4 separate regions of the Homo sapiens genome follow, and regions 1, 2 and 3 are each linked to region 4. The links come from fine-mapping of genetic effects on gene expression. A gene starts in region 4. Each other region holds a variant in brackets. All regions are shown on one strand. Distances are between the middles of the regions. Region 1 overlaps NEPRO-AS1 (NEPRO antisense RNA 1). Region 2 overlaps NEPRO-AS1 (NEPRO antisense RNA 1). Region 3 overlaps NEPRO-AS1 (NEPRO antisense RNA 1). Region 4 holds the start of LINC02044 (long intergenic non-protein coding RNA 2044).

Region 1 (5,908 bases), 41 kb before region 4:
TGCTTACTCTGATGTAGACTCCAATTACAGGCATTGGAGAGGGACACATCAGTGAACAAAACAAAACCTCTATCCTAATGAGGCCTATATTTTAGTGAGGGCAGACAGACAAATAAGTATATATAATGTCAGGAAGTGATGAATGCTATAAAATGTTGTCTCTGAAGAAGAAAATTGTCATAAGCCATGGTCTCTTCCTATGCTGGAGACAGGCAATCCACAGACTTAAGGGTTTGGGGACATATGTGTGAAACTGGAGGATATGGCAGGAAAATAAAAATTATAGGCAAAGCAATTATTAGCAAACAAGACAGTTTTCCGACTCTTGTTAGAAAGTACTACAGATTCCCTTCACTTCCCATATGAAAAATCTATGATTTTAGTCAGCAGGTCCTTCACTTTGCTGTAAAAATGTAAAAGATGCATCTAGATACAGTGTTATTGTTCTGTATGTAGATACAATGTTACTGTTCTACAGCAAGGGCAAAAAAATTCTTGCAGGCTTCCCACTGAGAAGGGCCTGTGCTGGAACAAGTAAAGTAGAAAGCCCTGGGGAAGTCTAGACTTGCCCCAACCCTCTGAGAGACTTGGGCCAGGCCCTTCACTGCTCTGCCCTATACCTCTTGAAGCCTAATTAAGTAAAATGAGGAGTATAGAAAGGAAGGTCTCTGTGGTCCCATCCAACCTGAGCCATCTTTTTCTACCCTAGCTTACATTTCTGCCTGGGAGACTTACAAGCGCACAACAGGATTAATCCATCAGCTCTGCTGGGCTGGGAGAGGGAGGGAGCCAGGCGGAGGAAGTATCAATGATACCGCACTCCAGTGAGCACTGAAGAGGCTCCATTCATGGACCAACAAAACCTGGAAGAAGCCTCAGACTTAATCAGCCAAGGAGGCTCCAGCAGCAGGAACAAAAGAAATCAAAGCTTCACTGGGTAATGCAGGCACAGCTTCTGTGTTCCTCCTGAGACCTGAACCCACTGGGTCCCCAGCAGACAAGAAGTGGTGGGCGTGGGGGCGTGGGCGCGTGGGCGCGTGAGCGCGCACTCGCGCACACCCACACCCACACACACACACAGACACACACACACATACTGAGGGCTTACTGGTTTCCAGAAGAAAGGAGAGAACAAAGATGTGCAGACAAGGCACCTGCAGAATGAGACTATGGCTGATATCATTAAACAAGAGCTTCATTTAAACTTAGACCATACTCTAGGAATGCTTACACAGTAGTTTAATTTTTTTCAGTTAAGATTCATGTTACACTTAATAAGTGAGGGATGCTTTAATGAGATTCAAAATGAAACTCTTGCATGCACTTCTGCATAAAACCTTTCAGGGTCCTAGAGTTACTTGTTTCTTAACATATAGCAGTTGCAATACTTTGTATCATGCCCTTCCACAGAACATCTAGCTAGGCATATTTCTTTTTGTTCTACATCTAGCTAGGCATGCTTCTTTTTGTTCTATGTTCAGACAGTCTTCTAGTGAAGTAGGTTGAGATTATGCATCATGCCTAAGTGGGATGCTTAATCTCATTTAATAAGTGGGAAAACTGAGGTTGCGTTTCTTATGGCTGCTTATTACGCCTATGTGTGCCACCATAATCACCTGGGCCAACTTCGTCAATAGGGTGATCATTGTCCCTGAACTGATGGTGGTGGGAATGAGCATATCGTCATCACCCTTCCTTAGGAAGTGCCAGAAGGAAGACAGGCGATAAGATGCCACATAAAACTCAGTAACCTTACTGGAAAGAGTGCCTTCTCTGTGCTAGTCTAAATGCCACACTCTGTGTCTTTTTCAGGTGCTGAAAGTATCTGGAAGATTCCATTATTATCAGGATGACTCACAAAATTTAATAATTACTTGTTTTTGCTTTGTTTTGTGTGCCCATGTTTTACATGATGTGACCTTCTGCTGCCCTGTACTATCATAAATTGCATCTTTCTGAAGGCAGTTCTGAGTAAGTTTGTGTCCATGAGTATGTGCTAGCATTTCAGCTCATGGGCATTGCCTTAAAGAAGTAACTGGGGCTGTCAGCAATCTGTTGTGAGGTCTTCAACCAGCTCATTTATTAAATAGCTTTAGGACAAATATTCTTGGCTGAAAAATCTGGTATAAAAATGAAAAGGAGAGTCCTGCAAACAAAGAATACAGTTCACTGTGTTCAGTTATTTTTCCCTAAAAAAAATGCGTAAGAGATGTAGAGTTAAAAAATATTTTTGAGTTGTTATGACCAGTTGATGACAGACGTGGTTTTTACTTTTAAAATATGGTATCTGTGACTACAACTGATTGTGGGCAAAACCACAGAGATGCTTCTTTTGCTTGAATTCAGCTATTTTCCTTTTCTGTGTTCTTCTCCCAACTTCTGATTTGTTCTTACCCATGAATTAGGTGGCTCTTGAGTTGCTCTTGATCTTACCCCTATTCTTTGCTGTTGTCCCTAAGCAATGCTCTTTATCTGGGGCCAAACCCACTTCTTCTCCCCACTCAATACTTTCCAGCCAAGGGTCCTGACTTTCCGGTCCAGGTGCAAGTTCCTGACGCTGGATAATTCCAGGCATCATTTCCACAACATAGAGCTTTTGGGACAGAAAAGCCTTTACACAGCACTCATCTCAGATTCCCCATGGAGGGTCTGCCTATGCATTGAGTCTGGCCCCTTCAGACCCCTTTTTCTTGTCATCACAGAGGGAGCCCGAGCTCTTGGCCAGGCTTGTGAGCAGAGC[A/G]AAGACAGTTGCTATCGCTATAGAACCATTTAAAGCTTGTGTGTGTGTGTGTGTGTGTGTGTGTGTGTGTGTGTGTGTGTGTGTGTGTGGAAAGACCTTCTGCTAGGCCTTATTACATCCTACTGGTTCTCCTCTCACTTCTGTGGTGTGAATGTTAATTATCTAGGAGCAGACCACTCCATCATTACAGATCTCACCTTCCCACTCTAGTCTGTTTCCCAGTGAAAACATAGCTTCTGCAGCCCTCAGCCCCTAGAGTTGACCCCTCCATCTTTACAGGCACTTCCTGCTTTTGGTGGCAACTTTCATCTCAAGGAATTAGAGGTGTTTTGTGCAGCCAGCACACAGTGGAGACAGGGCACATTCGCAGAGCTGAACAGACTGCCAAGAAAGACAGTGCCCTTCTGCTGTAAAATTCCAGTAGAAGTCCTGTGGCTGGGATCGTGACACACACGGGAGTCTAAGGCTCACAACGGGCTAGCATAGTCTACCTTGTAAGCCTTACAAATATTGAAATATGGCTTTGCAGGGGGTAGTTTATATAAGATGAGGTAAGTTAGCCATGGGACTTTCCCCATAGTCAAAAAGTTTGAGAGCATTGAAGAAAAGTATAGCCTTGGTTGGAAGCCAAGGAATGGCCATCATCTTTGAAGAGTATCTTCTTTTGCACCTGAAAATGGGCAGCTCAGCCTATGACACAGAAGGATGCAGAGAAGGCCCACTGATGGCCTTGGCCTCAGAGACTCATCACTGTCCTTTCAGACTCCAGATCCTGACTCTCTTGACATCATTAGAGTAGCATCCTCCATGCCCCAGGTGCTGACACAGCCTCCAAGCCACACACACACACACACACACACACACACACACACACACCAGTTTGTTAATTTACCCAGAAAAATACAACTAATAAGAGTACTGGTTATTCACTCTGGCCAAATCAGCACACTGGCTCAGAATGCAGGCAGTGAGTTAAGCTTCAGAAGTGTCTCTCCATTGAGATGCTTTAGGCTCTCTCAGCAAGTCAAGGACAAGAAGACTCTGTCCAGAGCTGTTATAGTGCCTTAGTGGGTCTACCAACATTTGCCTCTGCAACACCCCACCTTTTTCTTTATTTTATTTTATTTATTTTTTTTTTTTTGAGACGGAGTGTCACCCTGTCACCCAGGCTGGAGTGCAGTGGCGCGATCTCGGCTCACTGCAAGTTCCGCCTCCCGGGTTCACACCATTCTCCTGCCTCAGCCTCCCCAGCAGCTGGGACTACAGGTGCGAGCCACCACGCCCGGCTAACCTTTTTTTTTTTGTATTTTTAGTAGAGACGGGGTTTCACCGTGTTAGCCAGGATGGTCTCGATCTCCTGACCTCTTGATCCGCCTGCCTTGGCCTCCCAAAGTGCTGGGATTACAGGCGTGAGCCACCGCACCAGGCCCCTTTTTTCTTTATTCTTATAACTGATCATTTCTTTGTACCCACCCCACACCCCAGACATTTTGTTCTAAAGCATTCTTCAAGCAGAATGCGTACAATTGGTTGGGTTCTAAGTACTGCCCTTGCTGGTTCCCTGAGATTTCTCTTAAGTTCACCTTGATTGGTTTCTTAGGCATCCTTAAGTTCTTGGCTCACACATTTATAAATGATTTTTTTACTTTACTTCCAAAGATGACTAATTACATCAATTGTGTGTGGATTTTAGTGGTTTAACTCTTATTTAAACTGTATTTACAAGTCTTAGAACTTATCTTACTGTGGCCTTTATGCCCTTCAATGTCTTCTTAACTAATCTGTTGATAGAAGCAAACCTTCCAATGTCCCAGCCCCTGAATGGCAGAGACAGACGCTGAACTATGCATTCCAGCTATTATCCTTCCTCCGAACTGAACATTAGCCTTCACTCCTTCTATGAAGCCAGCTTTAAACATTCTTCCCACACTGCACATGGGGAGCTGTGGGGATAGTTAGCTGAACTTTCCCAACACCAACTTGTTGAAAGCAGAGGAATCAAATAAATGATGAAAGCAGCAGCAAATGAGCTTTTGTGCAAACTGAAAAGTGAGCAACCCACGCCCTCAGTTAGGGCTGGCAGCAGAAGTTTAATGGCCCCCCTTTCAGGGTCACTTAGTTAGTTGTAGTTTACAGGATGGTCCCAACTCCTGAGGTATCACTTGCTCCTCAAACATCTACTCGTAGCCCCCACCATGCTAGGCATGAAGTGTAGGGTAGGATGACTAAGAGATGAATAAGACATCATGCTTGCACTCCAGGAAGTCACAGTCTATGACGGTAGGACACTGGCTTGCTGGCAAGTGATTCCTGAAAGAAATGATGGAATAATGACTGACAAGAAGAAGGGAATTACCTGAAGAGGCGTTCAACCTTGCAGGACTTCATGCAAGCACAAGGCTGTTTCTTTGCTCTAAGAGCACTCATTCCTCCTTTTCCTTCTCCCTGTCTCTTTTCTCCTGGCCTGTGGGGTCTGGCGGCTTGTCTATGTGACGGCTGCAGCTGCTGCTCTGCAGAATGAGTCACCTCCACCGATCCCCCTACATGAGCAGCTCCGCACTCCATGAAGGGATCATGGATCTTCAGATTAAGCATAAATTTGAGCTAAAGTATTTATTTATTTATTTTTAAATCAGAGCGAAAACTCTTATTTGAATATGAATGTGCTTCCCCACTTCACTTTGAAGCGTAAGGATTGTGTTAATTTCTGATGGAGAAAAGGGCACAGGGAGGCCCCCTTTAAAAAACGGCATGTGCCCAGTATCCTGAGACCCCAGGGCCAGCAACCTTGAACCAATAAGTGACAAAAGGCAAAGGAATTAAGCTAGCCACATTTAAAAAGCTAACTAGGAAAGTTGGATTCATTTTGGCTAAATTAAATCCCAAAACCATGTAAAATGTTCCAAGAACGTGTATTCCTAAAGATTTTATTGTTTATAAAATGTTAGTCCAACGTTGATATTATGAAATCAGCAATATTTAATAAATGTCCGTCACCTTATTCAGCACTGGAAATACTGAGCAAGACACAGTCACAGCCCTTGTGGTTCCTTGATGTTTCATCACAGTAAAAGACACAGCTTCCAAAAGGTTCTGCCAGAAGTGAAAGTTAGTCTCTGTTTCTGTCTCTGTCTCTCCCAACCTCTACCTTCCCTTTTGTCTTTCTCT
Region 2 (5,908 bases), 32 kb before region 4:
AATAAGATCTAAAAATAGCCTCCCTGTGATATGAACGCGTGGCCCCTAAGGGTCCTAAAGAGAGAGCTAGGGGAGGTTCAGCTGGCCACAGAGATGCTAAAGGTCAGGAGCAGACTTTTAGGGTTTGCTGTTTTATAGGTTTAAAGACCAGGTCTGTGTTTTGATAATTGAACTTGCTAATAGCTGGCCACTTGAGTTGCTTCTTCCAGCTCTTTGTTTGTTTTAAATAAAGAGATTCAGCCAGTAATAATGGGAAGAGCTGCAAATGACTTCCCCAGTTGGGAGTGCCTGCTTGTTTTTCCTTCTGCCTGGGCATGCTGATGTGCAGGCCACACTCACAGACTCACACGTCTGAGGAGATAGCCCAAGGGAGCCCTCGGTTTGTATATTTATATAGGATGTGTGTATAAGAATGTGTTCAAGTATCAAAATACATAGGTAACCATGGGTGAAAAGAGGAATTCTGTTGCAAGAATTTAAATATACTGTTTCTCGTACATTTATGTCTTCATTCATTCCTTTAACAGACACTTATTGAGCACCTGCTGTGAGAAGCACTGTGCTATTTGCTGGGAGACATGCTGAGATTTCTAAAAAAGTGGGCCTTTATTTCTCCCCCTTCAGAAGCTTTCCATCCAGTGGGGGCACTATCTGATCATTCATTAAAGCACACATGAGTCACCCACAATGAAAGATATTGTGGGATAAATGCTTTGGGAATGGTACCGAAGACAGGTGCTATAAGAACCCAGAGGAGTATGTGTTCACTTCGGGCTTAAAAGACATCAAAGAAGATCAGTGGAGGAGGGAGTGGTGTGCTAGAAATCATACAGCAAATATCCAGTGGCAAGAAAAGGCACAGCATATTGGGAGTTTCAAGAAGACTGGTTTACCTGGAGAGGATTCTCATGGTAAGGTGAATTGAAATAAAATTGGAAGCTAAGAGTCAGATTGTATAGGGCCTTGAATGCCAAGTTCAGTTGACTTACACACATATAGATGAGGAAGTGGGAGGGAGGTAGCTCCCAAGGTCTCAGAAATCCAGGTGATAGGACTGAAATTATAACATAAAATGGCTCTTTACTTTCAGAATTGTTTCTAGGCCAGTAAGTCATCAATACACCCTAAGAAAATAAATTCATATGGAATTTGCCAAAGTTGTAGAAAGGATACAATCTCTAAATAAAGGGTAGCCCTTTAAGTTGAATCCATTAAGAAAAGTTAAATTATGCTTATTTTTTTCACCATGACCTAGTAAAAATTCTGTCACAACCATTGATACAGCTAAATCCCCTTTATTCCAACTCCAAGCTCCTCAAGGAACCTTGTGAATATCAGATGGAGCTATAGGAGAAGACATAAGAGGCCCCCTTAGTGCATTAGCTGCTACCCTGGTCTTGCACTTTGGTCTCTTGAGAGCCTTGCTAGCATGAATAAGCGTCCTCAAATGGGATCAGCTCTTGGGACACTGGCTAAGTTACATTTCTTTTTTCTTTTTTTTTTTTTTAAGAGACAGGGAGTCACTATGTTGCCCAGGCTGGTCTCAAACTCCTGGGCTCTAGCAATATTCCCATCTCATCCTCCCAAAATTCTGGGATTACAGACATGAGCCACCATGCCTGGCTCAACCAAGTCACATTTTTGAATCTTCAAGTTAAAGACTAAAAACCCTGGACTTGCCTTTGTGAATCCACCAAATGGCTCTTTCCAGACTCTGATTGGGGCAGCTTACCAGCTTTCCCTCTGGGCCTCCTTAAAAAGCACCCAATCATTCAAAATACACACAGTTCTGGGTGATGGAAAAGTTTAATTAATAGACTTATGTGGCTTGCATATGTAAATCACCAAGAAGTAAATATAATTAAAAACTTTACAATAAAAAACTTTAAATATTCATACATTTTTTGATGATTCAAGAACTACATTACCAAAAGACATAACCAGAATATATCAGAACTCTCAAAACGCAACAGAAAACAAATAAACCAATGTAAAAAAATGGGTAATTAAACAGGCACTTAACATAAAAGGATAGCTAGATGATAGTAAGTACACAAAAAGTTTTCAACAATTATTCATTATTAGGGAAATGTCCGTTAAAACTACAATGTGTTACCATTATATATAAAATTAAAAATACTGACAATACCAAGTGCTGACAAGGATGCGGAGCAACTGGAAATCTCATGCATTGCACATGTGAATGCAAAGTAGTAAAGCGACTCTGGACAATGGCTTGGCAATTCCTTAAAACGTTAAACATACACAATGACCCAATAATCCCATCCCTCAGGTTTTTACTGTAGAGAAATGAAAGCTTATGCTCACACAAAAACCTGTACATGCATGTTTATAGCAGCTCTAGTCAGAATCACCAAAAACTTGAAACCAACCACCCAACTATTCTTAAATAAGTAAATGGGTAACAAAACCACATCAGAATCTTACAGTATTTTGGGGGAACATAATGACCAATTAGCATCATGAAGTGGTACCATAGAAGGAAAATGGTCATATTTTTTCCTTCTGCTTATTAAAATTCCAGATAAAGTGAGGGTTCCAGATAAAGTAGGCTCCTTATGTTTATAAGAAAATGTGTAAACATTAGCCACACTGTGAGTTATGAGTGTTTGTGTTGCAGCTAAATGCACAAGTATTGAGCATGGAATGCAGGTTTTGAAAGAGCAGAAGAATAAAGCATATGAGTGGGAGAAGGAAGAGAAAGGCTGCATGCAGAATAAATAAAAGCATCTCTGTTCATCAGTGTTGACTTCAACCTCAGAACCAAAAT[G/A]AAGCAACTGTATGCATGAGTATATATATGTGTGTGGTCCATGTTCATTTGGAGGGTCAAAAGCCTTTGATTAAAATTTTTTAAATTAAGACTCAGAATCATTCAGTGTTTTTAAAAACTGATCTCCTTAAGGAGAAGAATCCTATGTTTTGATGGACATGAGAATAGACAAACTTAAAGAATTGGGAGAGCAGGAGGCCCTGCCAGAGGAAGGCCTGTCTAAATCCACATACCAGTGCAAGCTGTCTTCGGCTGTCCTACGTACTAAGGGACATAGCTCAGCACAGCCAGTCCCTGTGATGCATCAGCCACTGCATCCGTAAACCAGTGACCACTTCTGAAGCAGCAGAAGTTATTTTGCTGCAAATCTATCTCCAAGATCCAAAATGTGTTTAATCGGGGTGAGCCATTAACTGAATTAAATGAGACATATGTTTACCAGCAGGTGGCAACAGAGGTAATGGTGTCTCCCAAAACGTTAAACTTGCATTATTTTATACGCCAGAAATGGGAATCTTCAAAACTTGATTGGGTCCCAACTTAACTTCACTCTATCTTACATTTGCATTCTGAGATGAAATTATTCAAGCCAAGATATTGTAACCAGAAACATAAATTTTTCTTTTATTAAGCTGATATTGTGCTTCATTTTCTAAGGGTGGCTCCTCCAGGAGTTTGATATTTTTAATTGAAAAATTGGAAAAATAAAACATTATTTATAGCCTCATGAGTTAGACTTATTTGTGGTCAAGGGAGGCTTTTAAAAGGTGAAATAAACACTATTTTCAAATACAGCTGCCTGACATTTAATAGTGGAACGCATATTCTCTTGTGAACAAAGACGAAGCAATTCGACCACTTTTGAATGTCAAAGACATACTAGGTTCCTAACTGACTCTCTTAAACCTTTGTTAATTCTTTTCACATATGAGAAAACCCTTAGGTTTCAATGGAAAAAATAAACATTTTATTCTCACATGATTTCAAAGACTATTGTAACAGGATAGTTTGCTCTAAAGCTCGTGTCCCAGATGGAAGGCATTGTTGCAAGAACATTTTACCCGACTGTCCTGATCCTAGAACTTGTAGAATGCCTGTACTTCTTTCTGTTTCACCAAACTTCCCTGATTGTCTGGCTCCTCTCTTTCGGCATAGGTTCCTGGGCTCCCGTCTAACTCTTAGTCTCATTTCCCATGGTCCCTCTCTTTTCCTGTGGTTTATCACTCCTTTCATTTCCCACAATCTCTCTCTCATAACTGGACTTGGAATACATAATTTAGAAAAATATATACGTAGAAAATAAAAATGTTATTTAGAAAAATAAAACTATTTCTTGCTATATTTTATGATCTTAAATTTAAAGGCTTGTTCAGTTCCATATTTCTAAAAACTAGAAATAATTTACTTGCCAATTATTTAACTTAATTTTTAAATAAGTATGCACATTCATGTGATTCAAAATTTGAAATGTGCAAAAGGGTAGTAAAAAATGTCCCTTCTACTCTTTCTTCTAGCCAGTAGCAACCAATGCTTCAAGTTTCTGATGAATATTTCCAGAGAGATGCATATACCAGCAATTACATATATGTGCAGGGGTGTGTGTATATATATATACATATATATGTGTATATATGTATATATACACACATGCACATATATAAGTGCATATGTGCATATATATGTGTGTGTGTGTGTGTGTGTGTGTGTGTGGATATTCTTTATCTTTCCTGATTCTTACACAAAGGACAAATGATAGCATACGTTACACAAAAGCACCTTGCTTTTTTTTTTTACTTAGCTATTATACATAGCTTGGCAATTATTCCCTATCAATCCAGAGAGAGCTTTCTCTTCCCTTTTTCATAGCCACAGAGTATTGCACTGTACAGATAGTCCATAATTTATTTCAATCTGACCACTACACATACCACTTTGTTTGTTATTAGTTAAATAATTTCTGCTTTTAGTTTCTACTTTCTTTAGGTTTATTATTATCATTCAGTTCTTTTTATTAATTCTTTGAGTCAGATGTTACTTCTTTCATTATCAGTCTTTTTATTATTCTACATATGGAAGACTATGAATTTTCCTCTGAGCACTGCTTTAAATTGCACTCCTTAGGTTCTAGTATATAGTTATTTCTAAATTAGTTTTTGGCACAGAATTGGATTAATCATCATCCTTAATTTATGTTACACTCTCATCATTGGTAAATGCATAGCCATCTTTTGTTTAGTTCTTCCATTTTTTAACATAATTTTTAAAATATGGGCCCATCACCCAATGCGTCTTGACAATAAACTCCATCTACCTATATTGCCCCTCCCATTCCCTCCCTCTGCTTCTGTCCATACTACTCCTCCAACCACCAGAGATAAAGATCATGCTGAATTCTTTTTCATTTCCTTGCTTTCTTTTTCATATAGCTTCATAGCTTCTATCTTCTATCTTTCCTTAAAACATATTTTTATTTTAAATTTAAACATTTTCTTATTTTCTGAATATTAGGTTTGATTTTGATTTTCTTTATGATCCAAGAGTTGCTTTAAAAAGAGTTTTGGGGTTTTTTTCCCAGATATTAGAATATCTTGTTGTTTTATTATTTTGTTTTATTATTAAGATCGGGCTATATTACATCATGAACAGAAAATGCCTTCTGCACTATTTTTACATTTTGGAATTTCTTGGTGTTTTTCTTTGTGTTAAAATGTGATCACTTGGGATATGCCATAGGATGCTCTGTATCCACCTGTCTGTCTCTCCAATTTTGGGGCCAGTGATTGCCCTGTGGCCTCACTTCTCTGACAGATCTAAGAAGAGTTGCTGATTTTGTATTTTGTTTGGCTTTTTAAATTGTATATATTTAAGGTGTACAACATGATATTTTTATATAACTATACACGGTAAAATGCTTACTCCAGCCAAGCAAATTAACCCACCCATCATCTTCCATAGTTACTTCGTGTGTGTGTGTGTGTGTGTGTGTGTGTGTGTGTGTGTGTTAAGAGCACCTAAAATCTACTCTCTTGGCAAATTTTCAGTCTATGATAAGGTTGTATTTACTGTAGTCCTCATGCTGTATGTTAGATCTCTAGACTTACTAATCCTGCATAACTA
Region 3 (5,908 bases), 54 kb before region 4:
GGGGTTTCACCATGTTGGCCAGGCTGGTCTCAAACTCCTGACCTGGTGATCTGCCCACCTTGGCCTCCCAAAGTTCTGGGATTACAGGCGTGAGCCACTGTGCCCGGCCGAGACTGTTAAGATTTTATTGCCCTAGTACCAGCAGTTATGATGTTCTATAGAACTTATAGCTGAGCCCATGCCAGGGATTCCCCAGCTCACTGAAGCTGGAAGGAAGCCAACTGGACTGCCGAGTTCACTTTAGGAAGAGAGAGGGAGTTAACTTAAAGTAGGAGGTGGGTTGGAGGAAGGATAGAAGCCCAGAAAGTAAGTAAGGCATTGTAAAGTCACACCTTAGGCTCTGCAGTCAGACAGAGCTGGCTGTGGGTGACTTTCCGATATTTACTAGCTTAGGATATTAAGCAAGTGCTTTAATCACGCCAAGACTCAGTTTTCCCATCTGTGAACTGGAGGTCATAATAGTACTTGCCTTGTTGGATTGTTGTGAGGATTCGATGAGATAAAGTCTGAAAAGAATTTAGCACAGTGTCTGGTTCACAGTAAAAGTTAAATCAATATTATTTTCTATTATCATAATTATAAATAATGGCATGAGCAAAGGAGAGGCTGCGAGTAGAGTTCGCACTTTCCCTCCCTAAGTGTCAGTGCGTCTGGAGAGAAGACAAACATTCTTACGTATAAACAGTCCCTTCCGTGTGACTCTCTCATCCAAGCCTGCTGCATACCTTGGGTGTGAGGGCAAAGAGTAGTAAAAAGGAAGAAAAATGGAAGAAGAAAGAAGAGACCACAAAAGCAGAAGAGATTCACCGGGGGTGAGGGGCACCAGGGCAGCAGGGTGGGGGCAGGAATGATTGGAAAAAGACATGCAAAAGACAACCACGTGAAAGAAATGAATATGGATATGGAAATTGTCAAAAATGGAAAGAAGTTTTGCAGCTGGATGTGGACAGAGCAGGAAATGTGGAGGAGAGGTGTAGGAGTCTAAAAATGTACAGGGTTTAGTTTGCCGGCCAACACCTCCTCTGGGGAGGTAACAACTCCTGAAAGCCATGAACTTTTAAAAAGGAACCTAAACAGCACAGCAAACCTTCCTGAAGAACATATAACCTCACTGTGTACTTTTTGTCAGCCTCAATTCCTTCCCCACAACTCTCACTGAGCCATTGATCAGTGACTCACCCTTATCTCCCACGATCTCACACTCCGCTGTAACCCTAAAGAAAACTCTGCTCCTTAAGGTAATCCTTGACACTGTGCTGTGCAGGCCTCTGCTGCAAAGGGTAGGGGCAAAATTACACCATGCCTGGAGCTTAGTAAGTGCTCCAGGCATGGGGTAATTCAACAAACAATGTTGGTTGAATGAACAGAGGGATGAATGGTGTGGTATACTTGAGGCAAGCCTACATGCAAGTCAACAAGACTGCTCATTGGATCACTTGAGCCCAGGAGTTTGAAATCAGCCTGGGCAATATAGTAAGACCTTGTCTCTACAAAAAAAAAAAAAAAAAAAAAAAAAAATTAGCCGGGTGTGGTGGCACATGCCTGTAGTCCCAGCTACTTGGGAGGCAGAGGTGGGAGGATCCCTTGAGCCCAGTAGTTCGAGGCTGCAGTAAGCTATGATAGTGCCACTGCCCTCCAGCCTGGGAGACAGTGAGACTGTCTCAAAAAAGAAAGACTGCTCATGGGGACAGGATTTCTTTCTGGGGGAAAGAAATGTCCTGGAATTAGATAGTGGTGATGGTTGTACAATTTTCTGAATGTATTAAAACCCACTAAACTGTACAATTTAAAACGGTAAAACAGTATGTGAATTGTATCCCAATAACTTTAAAAAGCACAAACTATAGCCAGGGAGAAGCAAACAGTCATGACTAGTACCTCTCTTCCAATTGCACTCTTTTTTTTTTGCTTTGTTTTCCCCCCGTAAGTTATTGGAGTACAGGTGGTATCTGTTTAAGTGAGTAAGTTCTTTAGTGGCAATTTGTGAGATTTTGGTGCACCCATCACCCAAGTGCACTCTTGACACCGGGTTCTCTTCTCATCCTTTTGCTTCTTCTCAGGACATAGTGATTATCTTTAAAAGCCTTTCTCATGTGGTTTTTGTTTGTTTGTTTTTGGATTTTCAAGTGTTCTGGAAATCTCAGTGGGACCAACGATGGTTAGATCTCGTAGTAATAAAGTGACTATGTAAGAGAAGCTCAGTTCTTTCTTGAACATTTCTCTAGGACCTGTGCTAACTTTTCAAGCTTGAACAGTCCTCAAGATAAAGATTCACTTTCATAGCGAGCGTCTTTCACATGGCCCCAGCCACCTGAGGCTCGGCATCAAAGAAATTTTTTAGGAAATCTATTGCCTAACTATCATGTCTCTTAGCCTTATAGTGCCCTTATGGAACACCTTATCTTCCCTGATAGTCAAGAGCATTTAAATGAACAGAAACGGTTTCCCAGATGGGATGGAGAGGAAGAACACAGTGTAGCAATAGATTCTCCCGGGATTTTTTTGTTTTTGTTTTTGGTTTTGGCTTATTGTTGTTGTTGTGTGTGTGTGTTTGAGTCAGTGTCTTGTTCTGTCACCCAGGTTGGAGTGCAGTGACATGATTTTAGCCCTCTGTAACCTTGAACTCCTGGGCTCAAGTGATCCTTCCACCTCAGCCTCCTGAGTAGCGGTATCATTGCGGCCAGCTCTCCTTTTCCTTTAACTTTCC[T/G]GTTTAGTCACAACCTGCCTTCTTATACATACCTATAAACACATGGACATCAATATTAAAAAATGTTGTTTTCTATGGACTTAAGTTTGGTGAGATTGTGTGGTTAACAGAGCAATTCGCTAAGGATTTTGTGTGGAGCTTACTTCACTTGCCTGCTTAACACTGGCAAAAGAAACTCCTGAATCTTTTAACATCGTTTAATACGTCAGTAACAGACCGTTTAGACAAATAGGATTTTAAATTTGGGGGCTGGAATCTGCTATATTCCTGTACAATAAAAAGGAAATGAGTCCATACATGTCTGCAAACTAAGGTTTGGGGCAAATTCTGAGTCTCCAAGAAAAATTGGGAAAAGCAGGCTATTCATATTCATATTCCTTCTTCAGCATTCTATACATGCAGAATAAAACTGTGAAAAAGTGGAATGCTACCTATTCAAACTTAATTTTGGGCCTAAAAAGAAGTTTAAATATTCACTCATTCAGGGACTTTATTTGAACTGAGAAACAGAAAGTTCATTTATTGCCTCAGGAGCTTCTGAAAAATCCCATCCAGTCATTCATTCTGTGTAACTTGTTACAACCCACTGAGAATCTCAGTTACTGAACTACAAAGTGAGTTTTTATCTCTAAGGCCTACTATTCCTATATTTTTGCCATGATGTCATCATCAGCCAACCAGGGCCTCAAAAGCTCATAAGTTAGCAGTGCTATCAACTGAATTGCTTGGCAGCATCATGAGGTGGGGAATTTGTTTAAAAGCCCCTTTAGGCTTTGAAAATTATTGAAGAAAAGCTTTTAGAACCTTTTTTTTTTTTTTTTTTTTTTTTGCCTTTGAGGATCCCCTACCTGTTCAAGGACACCAGGTTGGGAAACACTGACCATGTAATCTGTGAGGCCCTTCCCAGCTTTAAGAGTCTCTGAGTCTGGAAAAAGGAGGCAAATGAGTAAATCATGAGTTACCTGGATATGCCCCTTCTTCCAGAAGGCCCTGCCGATTCTCCCTGAAAAGTAGAGTTGCTCCCCGGCGGGATTGCCCCCTCAGAACCAGCTATGACTGTCCTCATTGGGGAAAACAATGCAAAACCTTCAAAACTAAAACAAATAGTCATTATTTGGATTTAAATCCTAGTTGTTTAATTTCCCCGAATGTCTTTAGTCTGGAAATTTAAGGAAAACAACTTTTCCTTAGTTACGTCCAATGACACTTTGTAAATATAGGAGATGAACAGAAACATCCTTTTTTACTGTGCCCCAGATAATTAATGATAAAACTCTTGAGCTCAGAGAGACCCTAGAGAGTCCTTACCCAGTGGGAAACAGCCATTCTGCTGAAATGTAAGAGCAAAGCAAAGGAAAGGAGACAAAGAAGACTTCTAGAAACCTGGAGATTCTAGGGCTTCTTTCCCAATCCCTGTTCCCTTGTAAAGGGGCCGAGGCCTAGACTCCATACGCATCCTCTCTCTCTTATACCTCTTAATGACATGTATTTCTAGATACTGTGGGTTTCTAGACACTGTGGGCGGCAACCTTTTGTTTTTTAAATCTCCCTTGGTGCAGAGAATCCAGAATAGTGTTCTTTGCTGGGAAAAAAATGACATCAATGTCAGTAGCCTTTCTCATGGTGGCCACATGGTCACAGGGCTGCCTCTGCAGGCAGAAAGCTTGCAATGTGACTAACTTTGTCCACTTTTATTAAAATGTTTACTTTGCCATTGTCTGACTTCTAAAGATCAAGATCTTTTTTTTTCCTCAAGCCTAGGGTTCATCACTCATTTTGGAAAGGGGAGAGTTCCTCGCTATATTCGTTAGAGGTCTAATGGAGTCCCTAAGAAGATTTTATACTTCTCTTTGGAATCAAAAAAGAGGACATTATTGAAAGCCATAATTTGTATACTTTTCACTGCACCCCATCAGTCCTCATTCTTCCTTCCCAGAGCACCTTATGCAGAGTAGTGCCCTTTTCTTGATGTTCCTTCAAGAAAGTGCTTCCTGTTTTCAGGAAGAATGTGTTCTTCTCTTCAGCAATGGATGAGCTTCTTCCAGGGAAGTTGACCCATTTCCTGATGGCCCCCAGCAGAGTCTTTGCTTGGATGTTATTTGCTTCTTGGATTGATTTTGCATTGCTCCTCCAGAGAAATTGGAAAACCATCCAAAAAACTTTTAGAAATGTAGTATTTCTAGAAATACTACAAAAATAGAAGTACTAGAAAAAAAAAACACCGGTATTTATTCATCATTATCATTGCCATCATCCTGTCTCTCATTGTGATGTTTAAAACCTTCTGTAAACAAATAATCAGAGGCTGAGCATGGTGGCTCATGCCTGTAATCCCAGGACTTTGGGAGGCCAAGGCAGAAGGATCACTTGAGCTCAGGAGTATGAGACCAGCGTTGGAAACATACTGAGACCTTGTCTCTACGAATAATTAAAAAAAAAAAAAACTTACCAGGCATGGTGACATGCACCTGTGGTCCCAGCTACTTGGGAGACTGAGGTGGAAGGATCACTTTAGCCTGGGCAATCAAGGCTGCAGTGAACAATGATCATGCCACCACACTCCAGCCTGGAAGACAGAGCAAGACCCCATCTCAAATACATACATATATACATACAAATGATCAAGCAGATTTCCGGTGTCAGAAAAGCAAAAGACTGCTATTGTTTTCCATATTTATTGACTCTTGAACATGAAGCAAACTTAAGTTTACCTGTATTTTAAGGAAGTAAACCATGTTGAGAACATTAAGGCTTTCTCTTTAACTCCTATGCTGGGCAGCACCTTCAAATACAAAGATGAAGAGTGGGAACAACTTGCAAACCCTCCTTCATGCTGTGGCTTATGCCTGGGTGATCTTGGCTAGTGCTCACCACAGACCCTCGGAGTGGGTGTTATTAACATTATATATGCCTTCTCACTTTTTCAACCCACAGTGGCTCCTAGTTAACCCTTGATTATCTTTGTTTCATGCTAAGCTCCTCCATTTGTTTGCTTAGTCGCTCTTATTCCCATACGCCATTCCCATTTCATCTCCACAACCCCTGTGCAAGGTATTTAAGGTGTATTTGAATGTGTTCTTGCAAAATATATTATTCTGTGCACATGTATTTCCATTTATATAAATGTATTTTAACACATTTTTTCACATTTAAATCTCTGAAGTCAGGATTCATCTTACAATAAATGGTATGCCACCATTT
Region 4 (5,908 bases):
AAAAAAAAAAACAGCATGTTCATATGATCATGTGTGTGTGCGTGCTTGTGCGTGTGTTCTAAGCATAGGCAAATATGCATAGACTCATGAAAGTGATAAGAATATGAGTGATTTTAATTTCATCTTTTTAATATATATTTTCAAATTTAAAACATTTTTAAAAATTCTTACATTCCAAACAACTGGATATAATGTCAGAAACTTACAGTCTCAACCTCAGTCTTCCCATCAGCCACTCTACAGGGAAGGGCCAGTATGTGATTCCAACAAATCCCCTTTGAATTAGAGCACATGTATGTAGTAAACATTCATACATTGATCTCCTGAACCACTGACCGACGCCCCGCTTTTTTCAGGCACCTGCACATGGCTTAGAATCATTTACACACAGAAACACAGGATTGGAAAAGATTTCAGAAATGATCTTACCCAACTGCCAGCTTAATGCACAGCTCTCCACTGCATCCCTGACTGGGGCTCTTCTGTCCTCTGCTTCATCACTTCCCAGGCTGGAGACAACAGGGCAGTGAGACCCGTTACTGGTGGAGAATGGCCCCCATCTTGCAGAGAGGAAATATCTTACTCCCACCCACAGATCCTAGCCCCAGATCTATGGCATTTAAGATAAGCTTTAAGAACTCATCTCACAGGAAATAAAAGAAGAATTGGAGGGTTTTTTTTGTTTTTTGTTTTTTGGGTTTTTTTGGTCTTTTTTTGTTATTTTGTTTTGAAGACCTCTTTCAGTTTATTCTAGTTTCCTTTCCATGCTGTTTGGCCCACTCAGAGACTTGCCTTATTCTCTTTCTTTGTGTCTGAAGTTTCTTTCTCCCCTAGGCAAAGCACCATAAGCTAATTTGCTCCCACTTCATCTGGCCACCTTTCTTTAGCAGGTCATCCCTACTCTGATTTCCTACCCTATAGATAGCTGACTTTCTTTGTCTTTTCCCCTACTATTTCCATCGCTTTTTTTCCTTTCTTATTTAGAACTTCTTATTCTCATTCCCCTTCAGGGTCATATTAAAACAGTTGGAGACATTACAATATTATAACGACTCTCTGAATATGAATACAAATAAAAGCAGTATTTAATTATAAATCAAGTTTAGGATAGACCACATTTTTTTCAGATATTCACAATAATGATTATTTCAATCCTTTTTAAAAAATGTTTTTATTGTGGTAAAATACACAGAGAGTGAAATTTACCGTTTTAAGCTGTAAAATTCAGGGGCATTGAGTACATTCACAATGTGACAAAACCATCACTATCTAGTTCCAGAACTTTTTCATTGCTCCAAAGGGAAACCCCGTGCACATTAAGCAATCACTCCCCATTCCTCCCTCCCCCGACCCACTGGCAACAACTGAGCTGTGTACTGTCACTATGGGGATTTGCCATTTCTGAGTACTTCATATGAATAGAATCATACAATATGTGGCATTTTGTGTTTGGCCTCTTTCACTTAGAATAATGCTCTCAAGATTCATCTCTATCATTGCCTGTATTAGTACTTCATTCCTTTTTATGGCCAAATAATATTCTACTATATGTGTATGCCACATTTTGTTTATCCATTTATCAGTTGATGGTCATCTGAGTTTTTTTCATCTTTTGGCTATTACGAATAGTGCTACCATAAACATTTGTGTACAAGTTTTTGCTTGAACATTAATGTTATTTGTTGAGGTGTCAACTTTTCCTCCAAAACCAAAGCTTGCTTATTTGTTTCTTGCTGGGAGCCTGGGTAGGTAGTGCCACTGCTTTGCTATTGTCCTAGGCAATGTTTAGCCCGTCCACTGGTAACCTCAGTCTGTTTCCCTGTTTCTTTCACTCTCTGCTTGCCTGCACAAATTTGCATGCATATATGGGTTCTCCCCTACTTAAACAATTTGGAATTCATATTGGCAAGTGGATTTCCCCCCTCTTATAGAGGAGATTAAAAAAAATAAGTACAGTGAATGTGTCCAATTCAGAAAGGCCTTGGGCCTCAGTTCTCAGCTTCCCCTAAGAAGGCCTCTTTCCAGCTCGATTCCAGGAAGGCTGGCTCCAGGAGCTCAAGCCAGCAGAGGCCCTGCCTCGGGCCTCAGCTCATAAAGCCAAGGTGTGTCTGAGTCCCTTAACTCTGTCAGGCTTAGAACTTGAGCCTTCACTCACTGGCTGCTGTCAGAGTTCAGCGTTCCCTGCCAAGCCATCGGAAAGCTGGAGGCCAGAGAGAAAAGGCGAGAGGCATCAGATTTCTGCCTGCAGATGGGAATGGGACTGACACTCCCCACATAGGATTTCTCTGTGAGCAACCACAGGCATTATCAGCGTTCAGGATCACATCACAAAACACAGCCTGATCATCTTGCCTTCTCTTTTTCCTCCTCTCAGAGATACAGATGCATTGCTCCTTTTCCCTTTGCCTCCCGGCCTTTTCCTTTGTTTGCCCCTCTCCCCTTTCCTCCACAGCCCCGGCTTTCCCAGGTCTGTTTCTCTGTTGCTTTTTCCCCAAAGGCTCTCCTGTTTTCTCCTGTCCCTTTGATTCCTCCCCCTCCTTTCATCCTGCAAATCTTTCTCTGTCGACTCCCTGTCTCCTTGCCATTCTCGGTGTGCCTTTCGGATCTGTTTCCTTTGACACTGGTCCCAGGCCTGCTGCCAAGTTTCAGACCCATTAGTGAGGTGCCTTGCTGACTGAAACACAAATCAAGACTGATCCGGGTACAATTAGCAGCAGCTCACACCTCATCTGGAAAGCATTAGCCAGCACTGAGAGTGTAGGGAGGGAGGCACAGGGAAATATTGATGCCAAACAGAATAGATCTCCTACTTTTGGAGCGTGAAAGGATCCTGACCCAGTAGACATATAACTGAAAATAAGATACAAATGGATAATGCAAAGTTGAGAGGCATGTTAACTTACCTCGGCCACTCTTCAGCATCTACGCAAGCAACACAGGCTCCTTAACACACAATTCAGGTGTATAAATATCATCCAGGAAAAGGGGTGTCTGATTCATTTAATCCAGATATTCTAACACATGTGTGATCCGGGAGTCCTCTGCTGTCTTGCAAAATTCTATCTTGGTACTGTTTCTAAAAATTTAATGTACAAAAGAATCACCTGGCATTGAGCTAAAAATGCAGATTCTGATTGACTAGGACTGGAGAGGTGCCTGAGATTCTGCCTTTATATCAAGCTGATTGGTGAAGCACACTTTAAGGGTCTAGGAAAATTTAAGACATTTAACTTTGGTCAAGTACCCTGATCTTCTTCTTTGGAGCACTCACAATTATAAGGAAGGTTGAATGATATAATTAGCTGTTTGATGCCTATCTTCCCAACTCAGAGGCAAGCTGCCCAAAGGCAAGGACCAGGCCTGTCTGGCTCTCCTTTGTATCCTCAGTACTAGCCCAGTATGTTGCATATAGTAGGTGTTCAGTAAATATTTCACAAGTGAATTTTCACAAGTGAATGAACCAGCTCAATCCCTAAGGCCCATCAAAAGTTACTCCTATTTCAGAGAGCCTTCCCAGTCCAGCCTCCCTTATCCATACCTGCCTGGTGGCATTTCATCATTTCCCCTGTGTCTTATCTTAGCCCCTCAAGCAGATCATTAGTTGCTTGAAACTGGGACTTTGTCTTCTGTGTTTCTGAACTTTTTTTAATGTCCTTTTTTCTCCCTTCCTCTCACTCCCCATCATAGTAAGGGCTTGCTCTAGCAGGCATTTAATGTTAGTTGATTGATTGAGAGACCCTAGAATGATGCCAAGTTCTATTTAGACTTCAATTATAATGCTCAAGGGGTGGCTGGATTTTGGCTTGGATAAAAGCCAAGATTTTATATGCCCCAGTGGAAAACCTTTAATACCACCTAACACATTGTGGGGTGGGAAGGCTAAGACATTATGTGTGTACAAAATCAAGCGATGTAATACCGTGAGGCTCCCAAGGCAGTTATAAATCAGGCCACTCCAGAGGGGTAACTGCGGGCTGTGGCCATTACTTCACTCCTGTTTTCTCAACTGAGAACGACGGCTCACGTTTGCCAAGCTTTACTTGCAGGGGTGGGGGCTGTTGTTCCCCAGGATTGGGCAGACCGTTTCTCTTGGAAAGACAGAAAACTGGCTCACAGAGTTCTGCCAAAGATAGGAGAACCTGGTCTTGTTTAGAACTCATCAAATGCCCTATTTTTCAAACATCAGGGCTGTGTGAAATGCAAAGTGCTTTCGTCAAGCACTACCCCCATACCCCATAATATTAAAACATGCATATTTTAAGGGACATTTAATCCATATGCTTTTTATTTACTTACCCTTAAATCATCAAAAATAATTATTATGAAAACCTGTTTGACATCTGAGAAACTTTATGAGCATAATTTGGAAATTTAAAAATCTTGCTTTCAGGAAAAAAACAGAAAGTTGTGCTTTTCCAAAAACACACGGCTTTTAAAACAAAGAGACGTGAGGGCCTTTCCAGCATTCTAATTTCACAGGGCTTGAGGGGTTCAGCACCAGCACAGCACAAGCTCATATCCCTCATCTCTCCAGTGAATCGCAGATGGAAGTCTCAGGCATGGCAGGTTCAGGCTTCTGCACTTGATTTGATTCTGTGACCCTTTAATACCTGACAGTGACAAAACTTCATCTGTCTGCAGGCTCCCAAGCATATTTTACAAATACCCCAGATGCATGTTCAATGTGTATTTCTGCAAAGTGTGTGACTGTGGCCTGATTATCTTCTTAAGCAGATAAGACATAAATTCCAGGGTGTTAGAGACAACTTTTGAAGTTCAAAAGAAGTACCTGGCAATGAAAATCTACCACAATGCAGCTCAAGTATTTCATTCTGTGAAATAGACTTGCAATGATCTGATTGATCTCAGGGTGAGGCACGAGGCAGGAAATGTGGGATGTCCCATACTGTCTGTTAAGGCCCTGTCTGAAATTGTCCCTGAAAACTGAGAGCCACCACTTTGGTCTCTGAGTTGATTCACGCGTAGGTGAAATTGTGTAATGGGTGGAGTGGGTGAGTTTCAAAGCAATCCTGATATGCACACATACACACATACATAATGTTTGTATAGAACTATCCTATATGAACACAATGAGTCCAGAGCAAGTGAGCAATAGAGAAGGTAAGAGATTCTGATGGAAGAAGAATTGCAGTGTGCCTAAGCTCAATGCGTGATTGTTGAATGGGAAGTGACTGCACGTTGCTGAGATAAGTAACAGGAAGTCTGGATCCATGACTTCCTAGTCCCAGACAATAGGCTCACCTCTTCCAAGGTATGGATATGAGGTTTGAGGTAAGAGGAGAACAAGAGGCAGCTGCAGGGCAGGGAGCAGTGGCTTAAGCAAGTGGTAGGAAGTGGCAGTGCAAGGAGGCCCACCTTCCCCAGGCCTCCCCACTGTCCTCCCTCCTCTGCTGCCTTGGAGCTCAGCCTGAGACGAGCAGAGCTCTGCCTGGACAGTGAGTCCCCAGTCATGATACTCAGCATCCGAGTTAACCATTCAGTAGAACTTCACTGAGGGCCTGTCAAGCGTGACACAGCCATTGTCTCAGAGCCACAGTGGTGGAGAACATTTCAGTCCCCAGCCTCACAGTTCGCAGTCTGGCAAAGAATGACCAGCTTCCCTCCTGTCTGCCCTAGATTCAAGAGAGTGCCAAAGGAAACAACAGGACAGAAGGAGACATGAGGAAGAGATGGGACAGACAGCACTCAACCCTGAGCAGACGTGAGGGGCAAAAGAAAAGGCAACATTAAGGACCCATTCAAGTTTCAAGTCTCAGCGTCCCAGAGGATGGTGAGGATACAGCAAAAATGGAGAGTGCAAAAGGAGAAAGGCAGTTGAATGTGAAGATAACGGGGTCTTCGGAGCCTACCTACTAAGTCTGGTGGGATAACCCTGTTAAATGGGAAG

What was found. PIP is the estimated chance that this variant, and not a neighbour inherited with it, causes the effect.
Region 1: its variant is the best candidate, but not a certain one, in a credible set for the expression of LINC02044 in uterus (GTEx, PIP 0.84).
Region 2: its variant is the best candidate, but not a certain one, in a credible set for the expression of LINC02044 in pituitary (GTEx, PIP 0.64).
Region 3: its variant is the best candidate, but not a certain one, in a credible set for the expression of LINC02044 in spleen (GTEx, PIP 0.63).

The regions. Positions count from the first base shown.
Region 1 is chr3:113,123,588-113,129,495 of GRCh38, forward strand. All of the region lies in intron 1 of NEPRO-AS1 (NEPRO antisense RNA 1), which reads left to right. LOC124906268 (a long non-coding RNA gene) reads left to right here. Exons shown (of 3, transcript XR_007096005.1): 2 at 710-937; 3 at 1,813-3,879. Among named protein-coding and RNA genes, the nearest start is that of LOLI1, 22 kb to the left of the region's middle. RefSeq lists an enhancer at 483-984. The variant A/G (reference allele first, on the strand shown) is at 2,741.
Region 2 is chr3:113,133,037-113,138,944 of GRCh38, forward strand. The region is part of intron 1 of NEPRO-AS1 (NEPRO antisense RNA 1); the gene reads left to right. Among named protein-coding and RNA genes, the nearest start is that of LOLI1, 32 kb to the left of the region's middle. The variant G/A (reference allele first, on the strand shown) is at 2,792.
Region 3 is chr3:113,110,270-113,116,177 of GRCh38, forward strand. The region is part of intron 1 of NEPRO-AS1 (NEPRO antisense RNA 1); the gene reads left to right. Among named protein-coding and RNA genes, the nearest start is that of LOLI1, 8.8 kb to the left of the region's middle. The variant T/G (reference allele first, on the strand shown) is at 2,708.
Region 4 is chr3:113,164,698-113,170,605 of GRCh38, forward strand. It overlaps LINC02044 (long intergenic non-protein coding RNA 2044), which reads right to left and starts at 3,034. Exons shown (of 4, transcript NR_110823.1): 1 at 2,904-3,034; 2 at 430-509. The region is part of intron 2 of NEPRO-AS1 (NEPRO antisense RNA 1); the gene reads left to right.